Homo sapiens: one gene and its partners. The protein of the gene in region 2 interacts with the protein of the main gene of each other region in a pairwise test. Each region holds a gene or a part of one and is shown on either strand. Other genes may lie near its edges. The genes, in order: DOK7, EFEMP2, RAB40B and RBP3.

What was found.
Region 1: the proteins of EFEMP2 (region 2) and DOK7 interact in binary tests that used the Homo sapiens proteins (3 or more experiments, as listed by UniProt).
Region 3: the proteins of EFEMP2 (region 2) and RAB40B interact in binary tests that used the Homo sapiens proteins (3 or more experiments, as listed by UniProt).
Region 4: the proteins of EFEMP2 (region 2) and RBP3 interact in binary tests that used the Homo sapiens proteins (3 or more experiments, as listed by UniProt).

What each region holds. Positions count from the first base shown.
Region 1 is NC_000004.12:3,473,306-3,480,328, reverse strand, and holds part of DOK7 (protein Dok-7), read right to left. Parts: intron 6,924-7,023; coding exon 6,693-6,923; intron 5,390-6,692; exon of another isoform or gene 4,571-5,389; intron 4,029-4,570; exon of another isoform or gene 3,988-4,028; coding exon 3,787-3,987; exon of another isoform or gene 1-3,786. UniProt on the Homo sapiens protein: Probable muscle-intrinsic activator of MUSK that plays an essential role in neuromuscular synaptogenesis. Acts in aneural activation of MUSK and subsequent acetylcholine receptor (AchR) clustering in myotubes. Induces autophosphorylation of MUSK.
Region 2 is NC_000011.10:65,869,783-65,877,429, forward strand, and holds the start of EFEMP2 (EGF-containing fibulin-like extracellular matrix protein 2 precursor), read right to left. Parts: upstream 3,019-7,647; 5' UTR 2,901-3,018; intron 2,580-2,900; 5' UTR 2,573-2,579; coding exon 2,462-2,572; intron 2,237-2,461; coding exon 2,188-2,236; intron 1,582-2,187; coding exon 1,375-1,581; intron 877-1,374; coding exon 754-876; intron 456-753; coding exon 339-455; intron 195-338; coding exon 75-194; intron 1-74. UniProt on the Homo sapiens protein: Plays a crucial role in elastic fiber formation in tissue, and in the formation of ultrastructural connections between elastic laminae and smooth muscle cells in the aorta, therefore participates in terminal differentiation and maturation of smooth muscle cell (SMC) and in the mechanical properties and wall integrity maintenance of the aorta.
Region 3 is NC_000017.11:82,654,463-82,660,711, forward strand, and holds the end of RAB40B (ras-related protein Rab-40B), read right to left. Parts: intron 5,196-6,249; coding exon 5,118-5,195; intron 4,252-5,117; coding exon 4,029-4,251; intron 3,673-4,028; coding exon 3,401-3,672; 3' UTR 511-3,400; downstream 1-510. UniProt on the Homo sapiens protein: RAB40B small GTPase acts as substrate-recognition components of the ECS(RAB40B) E3 ubiquitin ligase complex which mediates the ubiquitination of target proteins.
Region 4 is NC_000010.11:47,344,198-47,351,362, reverse strand, and holds the start of RBP3 (retinol-binding protein 3 precursor), read right to left. Parts: upstream 3,001-7,165; 5' UTR 2,879-3,000; coding exon 1-2,878.

The DNA of each region.
Region 1 (7,023 bases), on a different chromosome or scaffold from region 2:
GCCACATTCTTAATCATTTTTAAAAGTCAAAATGAGTTTCAAATGCTCCGGGCGGCCCCCAGAGGCTGGGCAAAGAGGCAGATATGGTCCTTGGACTGGACCCAGCTGGAGAGAGCAGGTAAGGGGGGAAAAAGGGGGCACCTCCAAAAGCTTCCATTCACCCTCAAGGCCCAGCTCAAACGTCCCCCTGCGCCTCCAAAGCCCTCCCTTCCTAGGCTCTGGGTGGGCTCACCCTCTCTGGGGCCCACCACCGTCTGTGCTGCAAGCTGAGCCTGTCCCAGGGCGAGTGGCCCTCTCTGCATCACTCTCCACCACGCACAGTCCATCCCCGAAGGCGGGGCCCAGTCACTTGCCCGTGTGTGAGGCTGGAGCCTGCAGACCTGAGCTGTCCACAGACCGTCGCCTGCCATGTGCCAAGTGCGCTCGGGCCAAGCTCCAGGAGTCCACACTACAGGCCCGTGACCAACAGAGACGGGGAATTGGGCCACACTGGGGACCCGGGGGTTGCTGTCACCAAGCCACCTCCTGTCCCATTCTGAACAGGCAGCTGTCCACAGAGAGACCTCTGCCCCCCAGGCACCAAGACCAGCCAGGCCTGTCTCCACCCGACCCCCACCAGGGCCCCCGTGATGCACAGCCACGCCCAGTGTCTCAGGATGAGTGAGGCGCAGCCATCGCCTTGGGCCAGGGTCACCCTCTCTGCTCTCTGCAGAGCTGGCTGTGGCGGGGCCAAGTGAGGCGGTTCTGGGGATCGGGGGCCAGGCTAGGACCTGTCCCTGGGGAAGGAGGGAATGTGGATTTCCTACACCCAAGAACTTCCAGGGCCTTCCCACGACTCCAGCCCAGCTGTGACCTCCAGACTGAATGTGACGACACCCACAGACTTATTGGGATTCAGATTCTGGATATTTCTCCGTCCCAGTGGCCCCAGTTGTCGGCCAAATGGTGGCCCACAAAATGTGTTCACATACCAGGGCCTGTGAACAGGAGCCTCTGCGGATGGAATTGATGGTCTCGGGATGGGGTCACCCTGGGTCATCCAGGTGGGCCCTAAGTCCACAGACTGCAAGAGACTGAAGAGGAGGCTCACGCAGGAGCCAGCAGGCGCAGGGACTGGAGTGGCACAGCCACGAGCCGAGGCCGCCGGGGCCACCAGCGGCTGGAAGGGGCAGGAAGGACCTTCCCATGGGTCCTCCCCAAGAGCTTTTGGAAAAAGCCAACCCTGAGGACCCCTTGATTTGGGGTTTCTGGCCTCCAGGCTGCAGAAGGAACCCGTTCTGGACACTTGGCCCTCTCTTGGGGGTCATCTGCTACAGAAGCCCCAGGAAGCTGATGCCGCTGCCCCTGGACCACCCGAGTTGCCGGCTCCCTCCCGCAGGAGGCCCCAGGCTGCCCACACGTGCCGCAGACTCCCCGTCCCTCCAGCCAGACGGCCTGCACTCAGTGCTGCGTTGAGAACACCACCGCTTGGCCGAGTCTAAGACCCAGCCTAAACCACCCAGGGTGGTGGCCACGCCTGTCTCCAGGAGGATACAGCCCAGCAGGGCCTGCTGGGGACAGGGATGGGTGGCTCGGCCAAGCCTTCCAGCCTGGCCTCCAGAACCCACCTACCCTACGGGGTGTGCAGCCGTCGGTGACCGAATTCCCAGAGCCCTTCCTCTCTCAGGCCAGGGTACCACCGGGGACGAGAACATTCAGCACTGAGCTGCAAAGGCGGGTTCTGTGGGGCCAGCCCCCGTTTGCGGGTTCTGTGGGGCCAGCCCAGTCTGCAGGTTTGTGGGTTCTGTGGGGCCAGCCCGGTTTGCAGGTTTTCAGGTTCTGTGGGGCCAGCCTGGTTTGCAGGTTTGCGGGTGGGGCTGCTCTAACAGCTTGCCCCGGAGAGGCAGCAGCAAGACAGACGGCCCCACAAGAGTGCCCCCAGCTTTTGAGCAGCCCAGGAAAACGGCACAGTAGCCTCGCCCTGGGGAGAAGCACAGCCCCAGGTGTGGGATTGTTTACCAGCGGAAAAGGGGCCACCCACACCTCGGCAGGGATGTGAACCTCCACGGCCTCAGAGGAAAAACATCCAGTGTCCCCATTCCATTATGGCCCAGACAAAATAAGCAGGTCTCCAAGGAAACGGGTCCTCCTGCTGTGCCCCGGCTTAGAGGGTGAGCACGCGGCGCCACCCCGGCCGGCTGCCTGCCCGTGCCAAGGAATTCCACAGACAGAAAGGAAGGTATGGGTCCCCCTCCTCCAGGCACCCCCAAACCTAGCACACAACAGACAGGACAGGCTGCCTGTGTCAGGACAACTACAGCCTGCAGCTCTGGCTTCCCACACGACAAAGGACAGGGACGCTGGGCCCACCCACTGTGCCCAGCCACCGCCAACCCACTCCCCAGTGGCTCCCGAAGCCCCAGTACTGAACCTCTGGCCTGCCGCAGGGAGGGCCTGGGGGCAGATGGGACCCCGACAGGTGTCCTAGCTCTCCCGGGAACCACCCCCCACCCCACCCCCCGCACCAGCTCACAGCTGGCATAGGCAGCGGCCCTGCCCATCCATACTGGCTCTCCAATCCCAGAGGGGCCAAGGCCCTTTGGACTCTGGCTATGGCCCCTGCCAGCCCCAGGGGCCGAGACTCCGGGCCAGCTCTGCCGCACGTGCCTCCTGCAGCTGGCTGTGTACGCCCCCAGTCCGTGGAGCCTGAGCCTCACTGCCCTGTTCCCCTTTCAAGGGTCAGATGTCGTCTCCTCAAAGGCCCCAACAGGGCTGGCTCCTGCCACAAGACCTACTGGGTTTGCTCCCAGCGCCCAGCGCAGAAGGTGGCAGAACGTGGCACCCAGATGGGCTTGCGCCCGTGCCCCAGCTGGCCTTTGCAGGATGAGGTCCCAGGCGGCCAGTGTGGCCCGTGTCCTTGCCTGCGTTTCCTCCACCCAGACACATCCAGGCTCCACCAGAGCCCCCACCAGTGTGAGCCAAGTGCAGTCCCTCAGTCCTCTCAGCCCCAAACCAGGCCCACAGGAGGTCCCTCTGCCCGCCTTCAGCCCGGCCAATGAGCAGCTGCCCCTCCAGAGAGAAGAGAGGAGGCGTCACACCCTCCGCGGGGACTGCAGGTCCACAGGGCAACCTGGCGCATCTGCACCCAACATGGGAGAAAGTGGAGGGGGTTGCTGGAACAACCTGCTCCTGCACAGCCCCGGCGGGCACCTCAGACTCTCTGGGCAGGGCTGGGTGCCTTCCTGCTCCGATTTCCCTCACTCCCCTGGCTGAGTGAGGACAGCTCTCAGGCCTTCACAGGCCCAGAGGACTCAGGCCATCCCCACCCACGGCCTGGCCACCTCACTGGGGACATTAGGGCAGCTCTGGGCGGCCCACAGGCGGGGTGGCTGGCATGTCCACCAGGAATTCTTGGTCCAAGAATATGTTTCTGCGGTGCTTATGCGGGAGCTCACACTCCCCACTGCTAAATGCGTTTGTTCTTTGTTTTTTCCTTTCCATGAAATCTGGATATGAGCGGCTCTGAGGCTCTGTGGCCTCAGGCCCCTCCTCGCATCCCTGAACTCTCTCCCTCCAGTGAGGAAGAGCAGAGGTAGCCGAGGCCCCTCCTCGACACTCCACACTGAGGTTCCTGCGGGCAGAGGACCTTGGACATCGAGCGTGGGGAGACTCCGTCCACCTGCCGGCGCATTCTGGAAATGCCAGCAGGCCAGCCTGCAAGTGGGGTCGGCCGGCCCGAAGCCAGCAGTTCTCAGGGGAAGTGGGGGGTGCTGCTGCTGCCCAGTGACCCCACACATCCGTACTTACAGTACCCACACCTGGTCCCGCCTTCAAAGATGAATCCGCTTGGCACGGCCCCGTAGCGCCGGAGGTCAGACAGCTTCCACTGCCCCGTGACAGCCGGGGGGATGTCCCTGGCCAAGACGAGGACATCATTGCAGAGGTGCAGGGTAGCCGGGCCGCTCTCCAACTTGGTGCCTGGAGCCACTGTCACATGGAACCTATGCACTGCGGGCAGGCGGGGCAAGAGGGCATCACGGGCGGGCAGGGTGAGAGGACATCACGGGCGGGTGGGGTGAGAGGGCATCACGGGCGGGTGGGGTGAGAGGGCATCACGGGCAGGCGGGGCGAGAGGGCATCATGGGCGGGTGAGGTGAGAGGGCATCGAGGGTGGGCGGGGCGAGAGGGCATCACGGTCAGGCGGGGCGAGAGGGCATCATGAGAGGAGGCAACAGGGGCCACTGTGGACAGGTGGGGTGAGAGGGCATCTCGGGAGGAGGCAGCAGGGGCAGGGGCCAGGCTGGGGCAGGTGGGGGCAGCCGCCCAGGTGTCAGCCGGGGAGGCAGCGACGGCAGGATGAGCAAATGGCACTCCTCACAGCCACGAGGGGGCCTGGGGGCTGCACTTCTCTCCTTGCCATCCTCCCAGGAACTATCTTTGTTCAGGGGCAAGGAAGTCCCAGAGGGGCCTGACCTCGGACCTCCACCTCCCTCCCCTCCCACCACGGAGGTGCTAGGGAGGACAGGGCAGCTGAGTGCCCTGGCTGGGCTCCCACCCCCGGCACCTCTCCAGGAAGGCTCTCTCTCCACAGCTGTGTGGCTCCATCACAGAAGGGGAAACCGAGGCTCAGGGATCCCCCAGCCTCCAGTTCGGGTGTGGAGAGTCTGGAGTCTGTATCGAGGCCCCAGCCTGGCCACGGGAACCTCAGGGCACCACCGGCCCTCTCTCCATCCAGGTGGCCATTCACCCAAACCCTGAGCACCCCCATGGTCCTGTGCACTGGCTCTGCCCAGGCCCCTGCCCCTGAAAGCCTCAGAGAGGACAGTGGTCCTGAATGCTGTCCCCACCTCCCCTGTCTTCCCAGGTCAGCACACCAGGCAGACAGCAGCCTCCCCACCAGGGGCCCCACCTGCTCCATCTCCAACCCCCAGAGCCAAAGGGACCCCTGTTCCCATCCCACCTCCCCCTTCTCTGCCTCCTCTACCTGCTCCAAGCTGTGGCCTCAGGCGCATCCTTGTCAGGCCACGTTCTATCAAGATGAAGCTGCCTGGGCGGTGCCCAGCGGCCTCTGTGCCATGGCCCTGCGCCAGCGGATGAAGGAAGCAGACCCATGCCGCTGAGCCAGGCTGGAGGGAACCCCCAACGGGAGAACTTTCTGGAAAGATGCAGTTCTTCCCTCCTAATGTCTCCTTCCCCTGCGCCCTCCTGCAGAGCCAACCGCACCTCCTCCCACTAAGCCCCCAGCTTCTCTCTCCCCACTCAATGGAGCAGGAGGGGCTGCTGCCTTGGGGACAAGACTGGGGGAGCGGGACACTCACCTCCAAGGCCAAAGAACTCAGCCATCAAGGGCCAGGATATTTTAATCAATATTTTAAAAAGTAAAGTTATGCAGAGTCCATGCTGATCAAAATAGCAAGTTTTTTTGTGTTTGTTTTTTTGAGACAGGGTCTCACTCTGTCGCCCAGGCTAGAGGGCAGTGGCACAACCTCAGGTCACCGCAACCTCCACCTCCCAGCTCTTTTTTTTTTGAGATGGAGTCCTACTCTGTTGCCCAGGCTGGAGTGCAATGGCGCGATCTCAGCTCATTGCAACCTCTGCCTCCCAGGTTCAAGCGATTCTCCTGTCTCAGCCTCCTGAGTAGCTGGGATTACATGTGCCCACCACCACACCAGGCTAATTTTTCCATTTTTAGTAGAGATGGGGCTTCGCTATGTTGGCCAGGCTGGTCTCGAAGTCCTGACCTCAGGTGATCTGCCCGCCTTGGCCTCCCAAAGCACAAGGTTTACAGGCATGAGCCACTGCACCTGGCCATCATTTTTGTATTTTTAGTAGAGACGAGGTTTCGCCACGTTGCCCAGGGTGGTCTGGTCTCTATCTCCTGGGCTCAGGTGATCCACCCACCTCAGCCTCCCGAAGTACTGGAATTACAGGTATGAGCCACCGTGCCCAGCCTAAAATAGCAAGTTTTTAAAGGGAGGGCAGCTGTGGCTGCTGGGATTATTGGGTGGGTGCCAGGGTAGGACCAGGACTCAACTCAGTGGACATTCTACTGTTTTGCTCATTATGGGGTTTTGGCACTGATTTTGGTTTCTTAGGAGATGCAGGATTATGCTTGCTCTGCCGCTGAGTGCCCAGGGCCCCATCACCACCCACCTCTGCTCACAGCCCCAGGGCAGCTCAGCCCCCAGAGGCCCCCAGGCACCCATTCGAAGCCCCTGCAGGGCTGGGACTGACGTTCCACCTCTTCCAGGGCCAGTTCCACAGGGGAGCACTCCCTTCCCCTCCCTCTCCCCTCCCTCTATTCCCTCCCTCCCTCCCATCCTGTTTTGGGGGGAAGCTGGGGTGGGACCGCCCAGCCTGGGGCTCTCCTTCCTAGCCAGGCTCTGGGCTCCACTGTCCAGTGTAGGAAGCAAAGGGCAGGGCTTTGGGAAGCCACGTCCCTCCAAAGGCCACCAGCTTGGGTTAAAGGCTCCAGTTGTAACTAACGGTCAGGCTAGGGAGCTCTAAAGACACCATAGCCCAGCAGACTCCCCCTCCCAAACCCTCGTGGGCACCCCCAGGCTGGAGCTCAGTCCACCCTAAGGCACCCATGAATGTCCCATCTTCCTGCACGGTTCCCTGGAGCCGCTCCCACCTCTGCAGCCCACGTTGGTGAGGGGCCCCGGCACACCTGAACGGGGAGCCCCCGCCCGGCCCCGGCCCCCGTCACTCACCCTCGCCGAGCGCATAGCGGATCCGGGCATCCCACGCACACATGGCCTCGTGGCTGTCAAAGCCCAGCATGATGGCCTGGGACAGGCAGACAATGGCCAGCGTGTGGACCAGGCCCTCGTAGGGCAGGCCGGGCTCCAGCCCGCAGATGTCCTCTAGCGTCAGGCTGCTGCGCTCCCGCAGGCCCTTGATACGCTCCGACTTGTCCTTGTAGACCAGCATCAGCAGGCAGTCTGCAAGGAGCGTGGCCGTCAGGGACGCCAGCCAACACCGCCTGCCCGCACCCTTGGCGTCCCCGGGGAGGCCGTGACAGTGCAGAGACCCGGGCTGGGG
Region 2 (7,647 bases):
GTGTGGCAGGAGGCACGGCATAGCTAGGGCCTGGGGGTCCACAGAGGAGTACACAGCAGGGATGGAGCTCTCACCACTGCAGGAGAAGCCATCCCGATGCAGCTCATAGCCCTGGTGGCAGCGACACAGGAAGGTCCCATAGGAGTTGAAGCAGCGCTGCTCGCATGGGGCCCCCATGTCACACTCGTTCACATCTGGGGGTGCCAGGAAAAACAGGAGGGATGAAAGCGGAGGAGGAGCCCAGAGCCTCCACTCTACCTGGGCTGGTCAAGAAGGGAGCGCCCCCACCTCACACCTCCCTGCCCAGGACCCAGGAGCCTGGCCCAGCCCAGCCTCACCAACACAGGAGCGGTTGTTAGGCCCCAGCTGGAAGCCCGGCTCGCACTGGCAGCGGAAGGAGCCAGGCAGGTTCACGCAGCGGTGCTGGCAGTAGCGGTAGCGGCACTCGTCTATGTCTAGGGATAGAGGCAGGAGAAGGAGGGCGGAGGGCAGAGGGCAGAGGGCAGGTGGGCTCGAGCCGGCTGGGACTCAAGGCTTCACCACCCATAATCCTGTGTCCGAGGAGCTGAATTAGGCAGGGTCAGCCAGGACACCTCCCAAACACTCCCCGCTACAGTCCTCTGTGTCTGATGACGGAGGGTGAGGTGGCAGGGGCCGGGGGTGAAGCCTGGCTTGAATGGGGGTCAGGTGCTAGGGCAAGGGCCAGACCAGGGACACAAAGCCGGGACTACAGAAGCTGCTTCCTGGACTCACCCACACACTCGGGCCCGATCTTGCGGTAACCATCAGGGCAGGTGCACTGATAGGAGCCAGGCAAGTTATGGCAGTCCTGGCTGGGGCGACAGTCGTGCAGGGCCTGGGCACACTCGTCCACATCTGCGAGAGACACCACTCAGCCCCTGCCTGGGATCCCGCACACCACCCAACATGACAGATAGTTCCAACACTTGTATTCGGTTCTCTCAACAGCACGCGTAAGAGTTCACCAGCCTGGAGCCATCAGGAAAGGCACCCCTAACCTCTAAAACCACATGTTGGGGGTTGCACAGGAAATAAGGTCCTGTCCAAACATCCCCAGCAACACTGATTCCTGGACTGTCCTTCCTCCAAGGCCTGTGGCTCCCAGGGGACAGACACTGGAAGGCAGACTTCCTGCAGTGTCTCTGCAGCAACCGAGGGGAGGGGCCCGGAGCTGGCTGGAGCAGTGGCACACAAGCTGGGGCCACCTGCGGCAGGTCCTAAACAACATGAGTGTCTGGATGAGGGTGTGGACATCACCAGTGGCCCTTTTGAGCTGGGGAGGAACATGAGGTCTGAGTTTAAGACGCCTGGTGAGAGGACTGGAAGCCAGGCACCAGAGCAGTCCCCACTCACCCACACAGCTGTCCTGATCGTCGGGCTCATAGCCTGGTGGGCAGGGGTTGGGGTGTTGAGCGGGAGGCACTGGTGGCGGGGGTCCCTCGCCGTGTAGGTCGTTGATGACGGCAGCGGAGCGGGGCAGGCACAAGTAGCCCCCGTAGTGGTTGATGCACTTCATTTCCCCCTTGCAGGCCTCAGGGATGGTCAGACACTCGTTGACATCTGCAGAGAGGGGCCTGCTGGGCACAGCCAGTCTCCTGGGCTGGCCCTGGAGGGAGCGGAGGCAGGAACCCAGCTCGGCCTTCTCTGAGATGTGTGGCCCCAGCAAAGCCTTCCCACTCTGCTCAACAAGCTAAGTCTGCCTGCTCAGGACCCCTCCCCAGGGTTGGCCAAGGCTGGAGATGGGGCAGCTGTTCCCACTGTTGCCCTCATTCTCGGCCTGCAAGTGGGTCTCTATCCCTCCCCACGGCCCTAGCCCTAGCTCAGCCCAAGATGGGGGGCCTCCTTACCCACCCCTGGGGACGCTACCCTCCCAGGTTGTGATGAGACAAAGAGCTGGGACAGGAGAGTGGTTCAGAGAAGGCGTACAGGATCCAGCTCCTCTGAGGGGTAGGGACAAGGTTTCCTGGGTTTCTGGGAGAGGATGAGGCCACCCCTAGCTCAACTGGCCTCCAGAGAGCCAGAGCTGGCCTCTGTGTAGCAGAGCTGGGCATAGAACGGGCTGCTGGGCTCCCACGGCAGTTCTTGGAGGTGGGGCTGTCCCTTGGAAAGCAGCTATCAATCCCTTTCCGGGTTCCTGGGGGTGTTTGGTCCCCCAGGCACACACACCCCGGCAGTGCTGGCTGTCTGGGTCCCACTCATAGCCATCTGTGCATTCCTGGAAGGGAACCAGAAGTGGCCAGTGGTCACCCTAAGATCTCCTCCAACTGGCCAGGCCAAGACTAGGGCCTGAGCCTGGCCACCCTCCGGCCTGCTCCAAACAATGGCCCCCAGCTCTCCACCAGCCAGGGGAGGAAGACTTCCCCGGCAGCAGTCACCCTGGGTCCCGGTCTCTTCCTCCCTACCCTTCCTGTCCCAGGCCAGCGGCCCTCACTGTCCCCACCGTGTAGCTGTCGGGCTCTTCAGAATCCTGAGGAGAAGCTGATCCCAAGAGCAACAGTAGCAGCGCCCAGAGCAGTAGAGACCCGGGTAGGCAGGAGGCGCAGGGGAGCATCCTGGGGCTGCGAGATGGTGGACACGGGTCAGGGGCCTCTGCCCGCGGCACCTCAACTCCCTGTACCGGGAGCCCGAGCCCAGCCCCCGCCACTGCCCGCTCAGGACCGTGCTTGGGCCTCGGGGCCTCCCAGGGCTGGGGGCCGACTCCTCACAGGCCCAGGTCCCAGGCCCGGGTCCCAGGCCCACCCGCCCCGGCCACCCCGCCCCCGCCCCGCGCCCCTGCGGCGAAGGCCGAGGAGCGCGGGCCTCTGTGGGCGCTACGCTGCCGCGGACTCGGCCGAGACTCCGGCCCACGCCCTCCCCCACGGACGGTCACAGCCACTCACTTGGGCCCGCGACACCCCCGCGGCCCGCGGCTCTGGCGGCTCGGCTGGCTCGGGCAATGCCTGCGGGCAGACGGACGGGCGGACGGCACAGCTCCCTGGACGCGCGGCCCCAGGAAGCGCCCCCCGCCCGCCCGCCTGCCGCGGCGCGGCCCACCCCGGCGCCTCCGCCCGCCCTTCGGCGGATTCCTGAGCCAGCGCCAGGGGGAGGGACCCCGACCCCCCGCTTCTCCGCCCCCGGCCAGCCACAGGCCCCTACCCGGTCCCCCGCGGCGCCGCCAGGAGCCGCCTCCCGGCGCCGGACCAGGGTCCCCCAGTGCTCGATCCTGGGGCCCCGACCTTGATGCCAGGCCCCCAGACTCACCCGGGGGCCCCCAGACGCTCACCAAAAATGTCATCCTGCTCACCTAGGTCCTACCTAATCTGCGCCCCCAGAATTTCATCCTGTGCACCCACACCGTAATCCTGGAGCCCCCAGATTCTCATTGTGCGCCTCCCGAGATCGTCCTGGGTACCTAGAGCCCACCTAACCCAGTCCTCCAGACCCTCAATCTGCTCCCTGCAAAATTTTATTCTCTGCCCCAGACCGTCATTGTAAAAGATCCTAAAACTTCATCCAGGGTCCCCAGACCCTCGCCCAGGAACGAGAGGCTCCCAGGAGCAGAACTGTCCTTCTCGCTCCCTCCTGCCCTCCACCCCCAGGACCGTCTTCAGCCGGGTGGTCCTTTCACTACACACGGCCTCCCCCACACCCTCCATCCACAAAGCTACAAGTTTGGGGGCGAGGGCGGCAGTTCCCTTTTGGCACAAAATGAATGGAAGCCCCTGAGAAGGAGGGCAGGGCTGATGTCGGACGTGCGGGATGCCAGAGTCGGGTGCCAAGGCGCCTCCTCGACCTCCTCGCACCAGCGTCCCCCGCCCGGTTTCCGCCTCCGCCCGAAGTGGGGGCGTGTCCTTGGGGCGGAGTATGGGCGGGGCTGGCTCCCAGGAAGGGCGTGGCCTCTGTTTGCCCACGTCTTTGGGCGGGGCCAGGCGGGAAAGCACTGCGTGTCCGGGGATCCCCCGCCTGGGGCCCGCCCTTCCTTTCCCCTTGCCATCCCTGCTTATCCCCGCAGTCGCCCTCCACGTGACCCCGGGGAGGGAGTCTGCCGAGGAGGGGACGTGCTGGTGGGTCCCGCGGCGAGCGCCTGGGGCTCAGGTGAACTGCGCAGTGCCCGCTCCTCGCCACTCTGCCACCACCATCCCTCCCAGCTGCTGGGGCAGAAGGTTAAATAATAGCTCTTTAGGGGCCGGACGCGGTGGCTCAAGCCTGTAATCCCAGCACTTTGAGAGGCCGAGGCAGGTGGATCACCTGAGGTCAGGAGTTCGAGACCAGTCTGGACAACATGGTGAAACCCCGTCTCTACTAAAAATATAAAAATTAGCCAGGCGTGGTGGCGCGTGCCTGTAGTCGCAGCTACTCAGGAGCCTGAGGCAGGAGAATCACCTGAACTCGGGAGGTGGAGGTTGCAGAGAGCCCAGATCACACTGCTGCACTCCATGGGTGACAGAGGGAGACTCCATCTTAAAATAATAATAATAATAATAGGCCCGACGCGGTGGCTCACGCCTGTAACCCCAACACTTTGGGAGGCCAAGGTGGGCAGATCACAAGGTCAGGAGTTCAAGACCAGCCTGGCCAACATGGTGAAACCCTGTCTTTACAAAAACACAAAGAAATTAGCTGGTGTAGTGGCACGTGCCTCTAATCCCAGCTACTCGGGAGTCTGAGGCAGAATAATCTCTTAAACCCGGGAGGCAGTTGTTGCAATGAGCCGAGATTGTGCCATTGCACTCCAGCCTGGGCGACAGAGCGAGACTCCATCTCAAAAATAGTAATAATAATAATAGCTCTTTAAAACGAGAAAGACAGTAACAAGTGTTGGCAAAGATACGGAGAAACTGGAGCCCTCATGCACTGTTGGTGGACAATGGTCTGGCAGTTCCTCAAAATGTTATCACATGACCTGACAATTTCACTCCTAGGTATACATACCTAGGATAATTGAAAAGATATGTACACACACACAAATCTGTACGCAGCGTTTATAGCTGCACTATATATAAGAGCCAAATGCAGAAACAACACAAAAGCCGTCAACTGATGAATAACAAGATGCAGTACATCCACACAGTCGAACATTATTCAGCCATAAAAACTAATGAAGTACTGATGCATGCCACAATATAGGTGAATTCTTTTTTTTTTTTTTTTTTTTAATTGAGACGGAGTCTTGCTCTGTCGCCCAGGCTGGAGTGCAGTGGCGCCATCTCGGCTCACTGCCAGCTCCGCTTCCTGGGTTCACGCCATTCTCCTGCCTCAGCCTCCTGAGTAGCTGGGACTACAGGCACCCGCCACCAGGCCCGGCTAATTTTTTGTATTTTTAGTAGAGATGGGGTTTCACCGTGTTAGCCAGGATGGTCTCAATCTCCTGACCTTGTGATCCGCCTACCTTGGCCTCCCAAAGTGCTGGGATTACAGGCGTGAGCCACCGCGCCCGGCCAATATAGGTGAATTCTTGAAACTACTATGTGAAGTGAAAGAAGCCAGACACAAAAAGCCACATATTCCATTTATTTTTTATTTTTTTTAGATGGAGTTTCGCTCTTGTTGCCCAGGCTGGAGTGCAATGGCATGATCTCAGCTCACCACAATCTCTGCCTCCTGGGTTCAAGCAATTCTCCTACCTCAGGCTCCGGAATGGCTGGGATTACAGGTGCCTGCCACCACACCTGGCTAATTTTGTATTTTTAGCCGAGATGGGGTTTCACCATATTGGTCAGGCTGGTCTCGAACTCCCGACCTCAGGTGATCCACCCACCCTGGCCTCCCAAAGTGCTTGGATTACAGGCGTGAGCCACCGTGCCTGGCCCACGTATTCCATTTATATGAAATAACCAGAATAGGCAAACCCAGAAAAACAGAAAGTAGATTAATGGTTGCCAGAGGAAGGTGGGGAATGGGGAGTGTCTGCTAATGGGGTCTGGGTTTTCTTTGGGATAATGAAAATATTCTAACACTAGATAGTAGTGATGGTCACACAACTATGCAAACATACAAAAACCCACTGAATTGTACACTTCAAAAAAGTGAATTTTCTTTGGGAGGCCGAGGCGGGTGGATCATGAGGTTAGGAGATCAAGACCATCCTGGCTAAGACAGTGAAACCCCATCTCTACTAAACAAATTAGCCTGGCGTGGTGGCAGGCGCCTGTAGTCCCAGCTAATCGGGAGGCTGAGGCTGGAGAACGGCGTGAACCTGGGAGGTGGAGCTTGCAGTGAGCCGAGATCGCGCCACTGCACTCCAGCCTGGACGACAAAGTGAGACTCTGTCTCAAAAAAAAAAATGTGAGTTTTATAGTATGTAATAATACCACAATAGGCCAGGCACGGTGGCTCACGCCCGTAATCCCAGCACTTTAGGAGGCCAAGGTGGGTGGATCACCTAAGGTCAGGAATTCCAGACCAACTTGGCCAACATGACAAAACCCCATCTCTACTAAAAACACAAAAATTAGCGGGCTATGGGGGCGAACGCCTGTAGTCCCAGCTACTCAGGAGGCTGAGGCAGGAGAATCACTTGAACCGGAGAGGTGGAGTTTGCAGTAAGCCAAGATCGTGCCACTGCACTCCAGCCTGGGCAACAGAGCAAGACTCTGTCTCAAAAAAAGGAAATATAAAAAAAGGCAGGAAAGGGGTGCTGCTATCACCCCATTTCACAGATAGGGAGGCTGAGAGACTTGTCCCAGGTGAAGGATGGGACTTGCACTCATGTCCCACGGACTTCAAGACTCGCTGGGCTCCTTGCCCCATATTAGAGCATTAAGGACCCGCCCTGCAAACACCCACTCTGTGCCAGCCACAGTGGTGGGTGCTCCACTAAGTATCTTCCACTCAAGCCTCAGCCTGAGAATTGTCATTGCCAATTAGAGATGAAGACATGAGGCCCAGGGGGGATGACTTAGTGCACAGCTGGTGCACAACCTAGACCTGAACCTCCATCTTTGCACTATCCAGCCCGAGTGAGCCTTCCACTTGGAGTTGCCTCCTCAGAATGCCTCCCTCGTCCTCTGCACCCCCAGTGACTTTCCCTGCCTTCGCCTGCTCTGCACTGGGTCCCTTTCAAGGTCCCAGACACCACTGGATCAGTGTCTCCCTCCTACCAAGCAGGGAGCTCCTCTCAGGCAGTGAGGCCCCTGTGCCCATGGCCCAGCCCTTACTGGGTACCAGCTGGGATCTGCAGAGTAGGCAGTTGAATGAACAAATGAGTGAGTGGGTGGAGGAAGTTCATTGATTCACTCAACAAATGTTTTCTCGGCCGGGTGCAGTGGCTCACGCCTGTAATCCCAGCACTTTGGGAGGCCAAGGCAGGTGGATTGCTTGAGGTCAGGAGTTTGAGACCAGCCTGACCAACATGGTGAAACCCTGTCTCTACTAAAAATACAAAAAGATTACCCCAGCATGGTGGTGCACACCTGTAGCCCTAGTTACTTGGGAGGCTGAGGCAGGAGAATTGCTGGAACCCGGGAGGCAGAGGTTGCGGTGAGCCGAGATCGTGACACTGCACTCCAGGCTGGGCGACAGAGTGAGACTCTGTCTCAAAAAAACAAAGCAAAACAAAACAAACAATGTTTACTGAGTGGCCACTGTGAAGCAGATGCTGTGGTGCTAGCCAGGGACACAGCACTGACCAAAAACAGACCCAAACCT
Region 3 (6,249 bases), on a different chromosome or scaffold from region 2:
CTCCAGCGGGGTTTGCTGTCATCATGGGAATGTAGAGGAGAAAAACCAGTATCAGCTCGAGTTCAGCACTGCGGCAGGGTAGGGACAGTGGTTTTATTTTTATTTGAGATGGAGCCTCACTCTGTCACTCAGGCTGGAGTGCAGTGGTGCAATCTCAGCTGACTGCAACCTCCACCTCCCAGGTCCAAGCAATTTTCATGCCTCAGCCTCCTTAGTAGCTGGGACTATAGACGTGCACCACCATGCCCGGCTAGTGGTTTGTATTTTTAGTAGAGACGGGGTTTCATCATGTTGCCCAGGCTGGTCTTGAACTCCTAAGCTCAGGCAATCCGCCTGCCTCAGCCTCCCAAAGTGTTAGGATTACAGACATGAGCCACCGCGCCCTGCCAGGACAGTGGTTTTAAAAGGCAGGTGCCAGCCTTTCTTAAGAGAAGAAAGTGTGTAAGAATCTGTAGATCTAAAGCAACAGGCCACACCTCTGAACATGACAAGAAAATGACAAAGTTTCTCTAAGGTTTAATTTATATTTATGTTTTTTGTATATTCACCACCCAAACACACAGTCTTCTACTTAGTCCGGTCTGTATTAGGTTTCGTCTGTTTTTGTTCTGCCTTGGTTTGCTGTAGCACTTTCTGCCGTGAGCGTAACTCACTTCCTTGTAGGAGTTTCCTGAGGCTGCCGTAACAATCGCCACAAACCTGGTGACTTAAATAACAAATATTTATTTTCTCGTAGCTCTGGAAGCCGGAAGTCCAAAACCAATAACTTGGCAGGGCTGTGCTCCCTCTGGGAGATCTCGGGGAGCCTCCTTGCTACATGTTCCGCTTCTGGGGACTTCTGGTGGTGTTTCCCTGGAGGGCCAAGGCCTCCGGGCGGCCCGTGCATTCGGTGAACACCTCCAAAGAGCTCTGAGTCACAAAGCCTTGGGAAACTTTATTTTATTCTTTCTAGGACATTATCAGTAGTCCCGAGGAGACATCAATTACAAAACAAGAAAAAGGAAGGAAGAGAAAAATACAGGTTTGGCCTGGTTTAATGTTGCAATGGGAGGATCCATTTCCTTACCCTTCACCATCAGCGAGCTGGGAACGGAGGGAGAAGAGGCCCCTCAACGTGGGTTTCTTCAACGTGGACTCTCCTTTCTGTGCATCTCAGTGTCCTTGTGTTTGCAGCTGGGAGGTCGGCCCTGTCGTTCTCACCCCACCTGTGGCACAGCAGAGAGAAGGGTGCACAGGTCTTTGCAGCGTGCCTGCACGAGGCTGGCCACCCTCTCCAGACACTGTCCCCTCAGGGTTCACCTTCTGCCCACAGACCACACCCCTGCCTCCCCGTGGACTTTGTCCCCGTGGCTGCCGTGCCCAGGTGGCCAGACACCCCCAAGCCTGGGTCCACCCGCAGGGACCAGTGCTCCTCTCTCCTGTCTGGGCCTCGGTTCCACCATCTCTGAATACAGGCTTTGCCCCTGATTCTAGGGTCCCTTAAATTTCTTTTTTTTTTTTTTTTTTAGATGGAGTTTCACTTGTCGCCCAGGCTGGGGTGCAGTGGTACGATCTCGGCTCACTGCAACCCCTGCCTCCCAGGTTCAAGTGATTCTCCTGCTTCAGCCTCCTGAGTAGCTGGGATTACAGGTGTGCGCTGCCATGCCAAGCCAATTTTTGTAATTTTATTAGAGACGGGGTTTCATCACGTTGGCCAGACTGGTCTTGAACTCCTGACCTCTGATCCGGCTGCCTCGGCCTCCTGAAGTGCTGGGATTACAGGTGTGAGCCATCACACCCAGCTGGGTCCCTTAAGTTTCTAAGAATCTACAGATCATCAGCAGGAACTAGGAACATCTGGGTATTTTCTCGCTTCGTTTTTTTGGTTTAGTCCCTCATTTGCGACCCCCAGCCACAGAGAAACGTTCAACAGTGTGACCAGGGAAGAGAGCGGCCCTGGAGGTCTTTGCGGTCAGCCCTGCTCTGAGGCAGTCGGGGTCAGGGGCTACATCTTCATGCGGAATTCCTGACAGCCCCTCGGAGCTCCTCACCGAGGCTCAGGAGCACGGCTCTGATTTCTCAGACAGGCACATGCCTGGGTGCCAGCTTTTAACTCTCCGCTCTCTCCTCCTCTGCACTTCTGTTCCGGAAAAGGAATCCTTTCTCAACAGGCGACAACAGTTCAAGGATTCAGCCTTGTTGCCAGTGTCGTGTATTAGCTCCGATATGTGATGTCTACACCAGGCAGTGGCGCAGTGAAGTAAAGGGCTATAAGAAATACACAAAATCTGGCCGGGCGCAGTGGCTCACGCCTGTAATCCCAGCACTTTGGGAGGCCAAGGTGGGTGGATCACCTGAGGTTAGGAGTTCAACACCAGCCTGACCAACATGGTGAAACCCCATCTCTACTAAAAATACAAAAATTAGCCGGGCGTGGTGGTGCACCTCTGTAATCCCAGCTACTCGGGAGGCTGAGGCAGGAGAATCGCTTGAACCCGGGAGGCGGAGGTTGTGGTGAGCCCAGATCGTGCCATTGTACTCCACCCTGGGCAACAAGAGCGAAACTCTGTCTCAAAAATAAATAAATAAATAAATACAAAATTCGAAAGAACCGGTCGCCAACTCTACCAAGAGAGAAACAACTATACATTTTATTGTTGAGAAACATTTTCCTAAATAAGTGTTTTCACTTCATTCTTTACTGAAACAGCTCTTCCTTGACATGTCGAAACTGTGCTGGCTGTGTTCAACATAACTAGAGGTATCTTTGGCATTTTCTTCCCTTAGCTTCATAACTTGTAGAATATCTTGTACAAAAAACTGTAGATTTACAGAAAAATATGCATATAAATCACTTATTAATCCCAAAATGTAGTAAATAACTAGCAAAAACTTTATCAAATCCATTTCATACACAAACTGGACAGATCAGTTGCACATAACCTCTACATCTGCAGCGTTTTATAAATTGGCGCTTTGACATTGAAAAGGAGGTTTACAAAAAGACCCCTCTCGTAATATCAGTGACTCTAAATTATCCCGCTGCCATTGCTTCTCAAATTCCATTGAATTTATACTAATCACTCCAATATCACCGTTCTTACAAAAGCAGTTATTTTAAGGAAAAAGTTGCAGTGCAATCATGATAAAGTAACATTCAGAATTTCATGTTACCAAGAGTCGAGCAGAGTACTAATTTTCCCTTTACAAACACACATCGAAAACAAGAGCTTCATGCACATCCACGTAGAAATTCGAAGTCCGACGGGGTAGTGTGTTTCCATCACACGGAAGGCGTCGCACACATTCGCAAGCAGCATTCGCCGAGAGGAACCGGGATCTGAGATGCATCCACCAGCTGCCGGGGGTAACGCCGAGCTTCTCCTGGAGAGATTCCGCCGTGTTTCTTTCAGTGCCTTCCTTAAGAAATTTTGCAGCTGTTTCTGGTGCAGTTTTTGGGGGGGCTCTGGGGGGGGCGGACGAGCTTCACTTTGCGGAGGCTGCTCCTTTTGTGGGTGGAGCTGGTGGTGAGGGAGTAGGAACCGCCGTGCATCATCCTGGCATTCAGGCCGTTGGCCATCGAGAAGGACTTGAGGTGGCTTCTTAAGGCAATGGGGAGCGGGAGCTTGTCCACCAGGTGCACCGGCGTGCAGGACACGACCGCCCGGCAGCAGAGGTCTTGCAAGCTCAGCACTTGGGAGAGAAAAGATAAACCTTGCTTAGTGGATGTCCCCACCTGGGCTGGGAATGAGGGGTGGTGCCCACACCTGTTCTCCCGCCCTCCCAAGGCTCGGACGCCCGTGGCCCTGGCTTGTACATGCAGCAAGCCCTGCCGCGACGTCCCCTCTGCCCACGTACAGATCCCAGGAGCTCCCTCATGAGCTTTCTGACAAAGCTGTAGTCATTACTTCTCTCAAATGCCTTGCTCTGAGAACGGACACAGTGGCCTTGAGACGGGTCCCGGGAGGCAGACACTTATCCAGGGGGCCGCTGACCCACCTCGGCATCTGGAGGGCAGAGGTGGCCCCCGGAATAGCCCCTGGGCCTACCCTTGCTCGGCCGCCAGAGCCGGTCCATCCCATGCCGCAGCAGCACGATCCTGGCCAGCTCCGTGAACGACTCTGTGATGTTGAAATTGCACAGAGGGCTGACCTCAAAGAAGGTCACGCCCAGGCGCTCGGCGTAGGCCTGGGCCTGCTCCGTGGGCACCTGCCGCTTGAACGCCAGGTGCAGGCGGTTCCCCACCAGGATCTTGGGGACTCCGGGGGCATGCTAGCGGGCAGGAGAAAGGCGAGGAGCATGGGTTACTTCAGTGAGATTTTGTTGTCGTCGTAATGTGGGTGCTCTGGGTCGAGGAACCCCCCACGAGTTCATGTCCACCCAGAACCTCAGCATGGGACCTCGTTTGGAAAGACCGTCTTTGCAGACGTAAATAGTTACGGTGCGGCCGCACTGAATTAGGGCCCTCATCTAATGACTGGTGTCCTTGGGAGAAGAGAAGACACAGACACTCGGAGGAGGCCATGTTACGCGAAGGCAGAGGCTGGAGCGGTGCAGCCACAAGCCAGGGAGGGCCCAGGGTTGCTGGCACCGCCGAGAGCTGGGAGAGGCGGCTGTAGGGAAGTGGCCCTGCCGACACCTTGGTTTTGGGCTCTGGCCTCCAGAACCGTGAGAGAATGCATTTCTGTTGTTCAGGACGCCCAGGTTGTGGTCGTCGGTTCTAGCAGCCCCGGGACACTCATACAGTGGGCTTAGTGTCGACCACGCCATGTCACCATTGCCAGGCGGGCTGGTCTGCGTGCCAGCAGGCACAAGCGCCGGTCACTGCTGGTCAGCCCAGCCCGACCACAGCAGGGAGTGAAGCAGGCCAAACCTGACCCCACGCATAGCCGAGGTACGCCGTGGACGCTCGTTTCGTCTGGACCAGCTTCCTGAGCTTTCGTGATTGTAGCTATCACCAAAGCCCTATCCAGTGTTGTGCCGAGGTGAGGCACCCTCCTTCCTGCTGGAGCGCCATCCGGTGCCCTGGCCTGTGATCCATGGGTACCCATGAGCCCTGGAGGGCCCGGCCCTAATTCCTGGCCTGACGTCCTCCCAAGCCTACAGGGATCTTGGGCAGTGGCATTTCTACAACATACCTCATCGATCTCCTTAATCCATCGATCAATGCCGTCAAAAGACCAGCGGTTCGCAATGTCATAGACCAGGATCACACCCTGGGGGAGAGGTCACAGGCTCAGCACGCAGAACACAGATGCAGGCACAGCTGTGGCCATGCACGCAAAGACATACAACTAAATAACCACTTTCCTTATTTTAACACAAAGTACATAATTTTGATTTATCAACTGAATGTAGCAGTTTTATGATCATTTTCAGTGATATTTCATAAGCTCAGTGATAAACCCTCAAATGTCACGGTGATCTGGGGACTAGAACTCACACCCACGAGCCACTCCAGGAACACAGGATGCAGGGGCACCGCAGTAATCGCCACCTCTCGAGGAGTGTGGCCCACTCACCTGGATGGATTGCACGCATACACGTGCACATACACATGGAGCTCACGCACACACAGGCACTTGTGCACAGATGCACGCACACACAGTGCACGTACCTGCACACATGTTGCATACACACACGCAGGCACTCATGCACAGACACAGTGCACATACCTGCACACGTGTACACACGTGTACTCATGCACAGACGCACACAGTGCATACCTGCACACATGTTGCATACACATACACATAGGCACTCATGCACAGATGCACACACAGTGCACACACGCAGTTCATGTGTGCACATGCATGCACATAAACAGGCAAGCACACACGTACACATTACACACACAAGCAGGCACTCATGCACAGACTCATACACAGGGCACGTACCTGCACGCACGTGTACACACACACACGCACAGGCACTCATGCACAGATGCACGCATACACAGGGCATGTACCTTCACACACGTGTAAACACACGCACAGGCACTCATGCAGATGCACGCATACACAGTGCAAGTACCTGCACACGTGTACACATACACGCACATGCAGGCACTCATGCACAGATGCATACACAGTGCACATACCTACACACACGTGTACACACACACACGCACAGGCACTCATGCCCAGATGCACACATACACTGCACATACCTGCACACACGTGCACACACACACGCACAGGCACTCATGCAGACGTATGCACAGTGCACGTACCTGCACACACATGTACACACACACACACACACAGGCAC
Region 4 (7,165 bases), on a different chromosome or scaffold from region 2:
TGGCCCCCAGCTCGGCAGAGGCATAGTTATCAGCCACCAGCTTCCCGGCCGTCTGCAGCACCGTGGGCACCTTGGCACGCAGAGCCACTATGTCCTGGGCTATGGAAAGGGCTTCGCTCATGGGCACAGTGATGTCGGGCTCCACACCAGCCAGGTCCCAGGCCTTGCCTGTGGTGGCACTCATGGCCATCTGGGTGGGCATGGATGCATATAAGGGGCTGCTGCCCACCTGGTAGATGCCCACAGAGAGTGCGCCTCCGGCCGTGGGCTCCCCAATGACCGTGGCCCGCTGCAGGTCCTGCATGGTGTGTGCAAAGGCCTCGGCCGCAGAGCCACTGGTGTGGCTCATCAGGATGTAGAGGTCCTTGTGTGAGCCGTAGCGCTGGCCGGCGACCTGGGGCAAGGTCCACACCTCCGTGACTTTTGAGGTGGCCCTGTCAAAGACAGAATACAGGTGCTGGCGGGGCTCTGCCTCAAAGAAGTAGGAGCAGAGCAGCGGGATGGCCGTGGAGTAGCTGCCAGGGTTGTAGCGCAGGTCGATCACCAGCGCAGCCGTGTCCACCAGCTGTTGCCATACCAGCCGCACCAGCTGTGGCCCCACGGCCTTCACTGTCTCCAGTTCAGCCATGGCGTCAAAACGCAGGTAGCCCAGCTGGCCGGGCAGCACCTCTGTCTTGAACAGGGCCTCAATAAGGTAGGTGAGCTCCTCTGGAGAGGGGACAGCAGGGGGTGGTGGGGGTGCTTCCTCTACCACCAGCTCGCCAGGGCTGTGGAACACTAGCAAGCGGTGGTCCCCAGACACCTCCTGGAGGTCTGCTGTGAGCTGAGAGGCCAGAGACTCCAAGTCCACAGCTGTGCGGTAGGCGCCCTGGGCCAGCTTGGCCCGCAGGAGGGCACTGGTCTGCCCCACGACCTCTGGCCGAGCATAGTGGGCCTCCAGCAGGTGCCCTGTGCCCTCCACCAAGGCCCCCAGGCTTTGGTGGAACTCCAGCACTTCCTGGGCTTTGTCCAGGGCCTCCTCGGCCAGCACGATGGCATCGGGCACCACTCCACCACCCAGCCAGGCCTCGCCGTGATTGTCGATGAAGGTGAGGACCGGCACGGTGAGCGCGAGGCTGCCTTCGGGTGTGTCCAGCAGCGGCACCGTGCGGGTGTGCAGCAGGTTGCCCGCGGTGATCTCACCTACCAGTGTGGCCCAGCCCAGCGACTGCATAAGGAAGGCGAACTCCTCCGCGGCCGTGGCGGTGCGGTGGCTGGTGAGCAGATACACCCCACGTTGGGTGCTGTAGCGTGGGCCCGGGAGCTCCATGTGGCTGAAGTGCTCCTGCGTGATGTTGGTGCGGCGATCATAGGTGGTGAAGAGGTGCACGGGGCCGGCCTCAGGGCCCTGGAAGTAGGACAGGAGCAGGGGCACAGCAGAGGATGGCCCTCCAGGGTTGTGGCGCAGGTCCATGATGAGGTGCTCCGTGTCCTGTAGCGGCTCCCACACCTGGCGCAGGACATATGGGGCCAACACACCCAGGACGGAGGCGTCAGCAAAACTATCGAAGCGCAGGTAGCCCACATTGCCTGGCAGCACCGACACCTGGAACACAGAGTCCACCAGTGCTTGCCGGATAGCCTCGTCCTCAGGCAACTCTGGGGCCACCCCTGGTGAGTCTTCGGCTGCAGCGTCGGGCGCGGGCCAAGAAGGAGTTTCTGTGGGCCCGATGGCTCGCACCAGGAGCCTGGGATCCTCAGACGCAGCCTGCAGGCCGGCATTGAGCTTGGTGACCAGATCTTCCTCGGAGACCACCGTGGAGAAGTCCATGCTGGCCAAGTGCTGCAGCAGGGTGGGCACACGGTCCACCAGCGTGTAGTAGTCCTTCAGGACCTCCTGGAGGCAGTGGACTACCCCTGGAAGGGCGCTGCGCAGAGTGAGGATGGCCAGGGCTTTCTCCAGGGCCTGCTCGGCCGGAGTCCCCACACAGGGCAGCACCCCGCTGCCCTCCCACGTCTGGCTGCCTCCACCAAGGGGCCCCAGGGACCTGGACACGGGCACCGTGAAGAAGAAGTCAGACTCGCCTATCCTCAGCTTCCGGAGGTCCAGGGCCCCTCCCCCAGTCCGCTCGCCCACCACGATGGCCCTGCGCATCTGCTTAAGGATGTGCGCGATGTCCTCGGCCACGCCCCTGGTCTGGCTGCTGGTGAGGACCACCACATCCTTGTCGGCACCGTACCTTTCTCCCAGGACCTGGGGCAAGGTCCAGATCTCCGTGGTGGTGTTGGAGGGGCGGTTGTAGATAGTGTCCACGTGCAGGATGGTGTTCCCTGGGTGCAGGTAGGAGATGATGTAGGGAATGCCAGAGACCTGGCCTCCTGTGCAGTGCCGGAGATCCAGCACTAAGGCGGAGGTGCCCATGAGATTCCCCCACACGTGGGCCACCAGGAACTCCCCCATCATGCTCAGCACCTCCTGGCCCGGGACGCTGTCCACCCGCAGGTAGCCCACATTACCCTCCAGAACCTCATGGCGGAGGCCCCTTTGCAGCCAGGCAAGCAGTTCCTCTTCTGAGAGGCTGGTGAGTGCTGGGACTTGTGGGGGAGGCTCGGGGGTGCTGGGCTCATAGGAGATGACCAGGCGAGGATCGTTCAGGGAGCTCTGCACCCCGGCTGTCAGCACACTGGCCAGCGTCTGCGGGTCTGAGATGCTCAGAATCTCATGGCTCTTGATGGCCTGCTGGATGGCTTCCTGCATGCCCAGCAGGTTCTCCGGGAAGCAGTAGTTATCCAAGAGGACCTTGGCCATGTCCAGCACCAGGCTTGGCTGGAACAGGTGTGTGGGGCCAGCCAGGCCACAGAGCAGCACGGACATGAGCAGAACCCATTCTCTCATCATGGGGACCCAGGGGGAGGCCTGGCTCCTGCACAAAAGCTCCCTGGACTGTGTGCAAGGCCGTGGCCCTGCTCTGTGCAGCTGCCTTCCGCCCTTGTCCTTCTCAGCTGGTGGACAGAAGGTCTGGGGCTAAACTCCTGAGTTGGGGCAAGGCTTCCAGCTCCAGTAAGCCTTTAATCCTGTCTAATTCAAGCACATCAACCCTGGGTATCGGGGAGGAGTGGCCAGGGTGGTTTGACCCAGAAGGTACATTGCATCTTATCTTGCTGTGTTGTGTCTGCATATCATAACATTAATCACTGCCATTATTTTAGTTCCTGCTACATGCCAGACACTGTGCTCCATCCTTTACAAGCTGACAGTTTCCACCAGAGCCTTGCAAAGTCCAGTTATTAACTTGCAAGTCCTCCTTGGAGAACTGTTCTGCCACTGTCTCTCCCGTGGCCTCAGGGAAATGTCTTAATTACTTATTGTGTAGATTAAATGAGAAAATATGTGTAAAGCACTTCTTCCCAGTACCCAGTAAGTAGGAAGCACTCATTACTGGTAAGTTATCTGTATTAGATATTACCTCTGTTTCATAGCTAAAAAACAAAAAAACAAAAAAACAAAACAAAACAAAGCAAAGCAAAACAAAACAGGCCAGAGAGTTCTGTAACTAATAGAAGCCCATCGTTTTAGGTGTGGACAGATAGGGGGTGCAGCAAGAAGAAGTCCTTGGGGCTACAATTGGCCCATACAGTGCAGAGGCTGAGTCTGAGGCTGGCATCAGCCTCAGAGCTTGAGATTTATTTCTATGTCCCTTTAATGCCTCCAGGGAACAGAACGGGTCCCCCTACAGCTTTCTAATGCTGGGAATGATGTGTCTGGACCACCATGTAGGGTGTGGAGTGTAGAGGCGCCCACCTTCCAGACATCACAGGACTAGTGTTCCCATTCAAATGAGGTTAGCTCTGAGAGTTAATGGCTAGAGGGGACTCCTGCTTCTTGAAGGCTCAGCCCACAGCCTGCAGTTCGCAGGGAGAATCAAGCAGGAAGTCTTGGGTCTCCGTGGTCCCAGGCTTCACATGGAATCCAGATCATTCCTCCTGACTGCATAAAGCACAAGAAACAGGGAAAGGTAGACTGCTGAACTCTTCAGATCCCAGCTCCTGCCACTTCTTATAGAAATAATGTGGGTGCTGCTTGCAACTGACTGGCTGTAGAAATCCAAGAAGTCCTGCTATGGGGTCGGAACCTGGAAGCCCTGCTTTGCCGCTGAATGCCTCTGGAGATGGGCACTTTCCTCACTTAACAGACAGACAACTACGGCCCAGAGAGTGGTCGCAAGGCCAGGGCAGAGCGTTGGGAGAGCTGTCCCAAGCTGGCTCCAGCAACACCGCCTTGGCTGAGCGGGCAGCAGGCAGGCGCCCCTGTGTGCCTCAGTAGGCAGCTGGAGAAGGTGGTCTCAGGGACGTGGGCTTTCTCTACACAGCTGAGACCCACAATCTGCTCTTTGGAAATCATTATCTGAGGATGTTTACCAACTGCTTTATGAAGGCCAAAGAGGTCAATTAGCTAAAACAAACATATTTTTAGCTCATTAGGATTTGTGTAATGCTCAAGTGACATATGGTCACATCACTCCACCGTATGCAGCCAATGGAAGTGAGCCTGATTTACGATGAGAATGGGGTGGGGCTGGGATGCTGCCAACACCTCCGGATGAATGCACTCCTTGCATATCCTTAGCCCTGCTGGGAAGCCTGGGCCTTCTCCTCTGCCTCCACTTGGAGAATCACAGTTCTGAGCATGCACTTCCGTGTCCTCAGAGGGCACTTGTCTGCCATTGCTTGAGTCCAGGCAAAGCTTCTGGCCCAGAAAGGGCTTGGGGGAGAACAGGAGTAAGACTGTCTTTGGGGAAAGGATTCCCTGGAGTCTTACTAAGATGTAGTTTCAGGATAGGATTGTCTGGACCTATCACTGGGATTTGATTTGTGTGGCTAGCCCAGAGCCTTAAGAAGGACGTGAGAAAAAATCAGACTGTTGCAAGTCCCTGGGGTGCCTGAGTTGGATGGGGCATGGGTAGAGAAGCAGTGCTTCTCCTGTGGGTAAGGCCCAAGCAGGTGGAAGAGCAAGTTCTGTCCTCAGAGTTCTCCAGACTCCAGGGGGCCAGGGTGTCCTTGCCCCCAGGCCGTGGGGGGATGTAGGAAGATGGCAGCCAGCCTCCTTAGCTCATGAGGAGAATATGTTCTGGGTAAGTCCCCAGAGTGAAAGCCGAGAGCTCTACATCTTCCCATCCAGACCCTGACAACTGTAGGGCCAGGGTGGGTTCAGAGAGTCCACTTGATCTTGGGGGCTGAGTTTTGGAGTTGGAGGGGGCTGGAAGGCCCTGCACCCCCTCACTTATACAAATGTCCTGTGGGCAGAGCTGTGCAGGGTAGCTTAGAAGCCATCCTGAACTGAACTGGTGAGAACTGAATAGGTGAGTGGGTGAGATCTTGATAAGGTGACATGAGACCTTGATCAGGCGACATGAGACCATGATTAGGTGACTCGACTGCTCTGAGCCTTGGCTTCTTCAAAAGGGAAAACAGAATAAGGAGAAAAGCCTCAGTATTGCTGGAGGATTAGGTGTTTCCATCCTAGAAGTTATGAAAGGAAGTTGAGGACGTAGGAGTTGGTGAGGGGCAGCTTGGGTCTGCCTGGGATTAGAACACCCCTGTGGTATTAGGGAAAGTCATTCCAAGAGGCTGGGGCTGCCCTGGAGACCTGGAGTCCTAGGGCTTCTTAGGCTCCAAACCTTTCCTGGGCCTCTACATATCTAAGGAGAAATGACCAGACCCAGGCTCCAGAGCCCAGCCCTGCAGCACCTGCAGCGCAGGTTAAGAGGGGGACAATGACACATCAGGGCTGCTGCAGGGATGGTCAGGGAGCAAGCGGAGCTGGGCAGTACAGGAAGGAGCGTCTTGCCTATTGCATCACAGATGTTGTCTTTTCAGTGGCCAAAGCCCTCGTCTGTCTATTGTTTTATGTTAGTTTTCCCCTCGATGTTTTATAATGGAAATGTTCAAGTGGTACAGCAAATATCTATATGCCATCATTTAAAGAAATGCTTTGACATGTTCACATTTTAAAGAACTTATCCGAGCAGATAGCGATTCATGAATCTGGTAGCTCCCCACAAGAGGCAGTTTGGGGCTCTGCAAGGGAGCACAAGGGGAGGCTTCCACAGGGTGAAGGCAGAAGTGGAATAAATATTACAGATGCTTTGGTTGCTTAGCGTTTCGGCCCTTGCATGATTTGGGACATCCTAGTGGAAAGTTCGAGACCATGCAACTGATGTCCAGTTGGCCATCAGTGGTTGGCTGGACTTAAGCTTCGGTTTCTTTTAAATTAGCTGCTTACAGTAAATGAGTCTGAGTTAGATTTCAATTTGCTCTTGTAGGAAATCAGGGCGTTAGAGCCACCTTAGTTTAATGGCTGCCTCCCTAGATTCTACCACAGACATTTTATTACCCCTTTCTCATCTCAGCTCCGCCTCACTAGCCTCTTCTACCCTGCAAGCCTCCTCTCCCCTGCAAACCAACACATTTTTAAATGCACTTCAAAGCAAATTGAACCTTGACTTTTTATTCATTTTATGTATTTTCATTTTACTTTTTTCTTAAATCAGAGGAGTAAAACATACTCATTTTTGTAGAAATGTGCAAACAAACCTTTTCCAAAGCTTTTAAAATCCAGCCTCCTTTAGTAACAAATAATCAGCATTGAATGTCTAGCCATTGTCACCTGTGTCTGTGTACACGCAGGGAGGTGCACATATAGGAGAGATCCATCCACACATCTATGGGCACCCCATCCATTTGTCCATCCTATTGTCAGCCGTTTATTAGCATAGATGATAATTTGCATTTTGTTTTACTCACTTAAACATACAACACAAACATCCTTCCCAGTTGAAGTATACTCATTAAACTCATCCTTTTAATGGCTACATGTAGTCTGGGGATCCCTAATCTAAAAATCTGAAATCTGAAATGCTCCAAAACCTGAAACTTTTTGAGCACCGACACAACACCACAAGTGAAAAATTTCACACATAAGTACTTAACACCAACTTTGTTTCATGCAAAAAATTATTTAAAATATTGATATAGTTACCTTTAGGCTATGCGTATAAGGCATACATGAGGCATAAATACTGTGTTTAGACTAGAGTCCCACTCCCAGGATATCTCATTATGTACATACAGATATTCCAAAATCCAAAAAGAATCTGAAATCTAAAACACTTCTTTCTCCAAAACT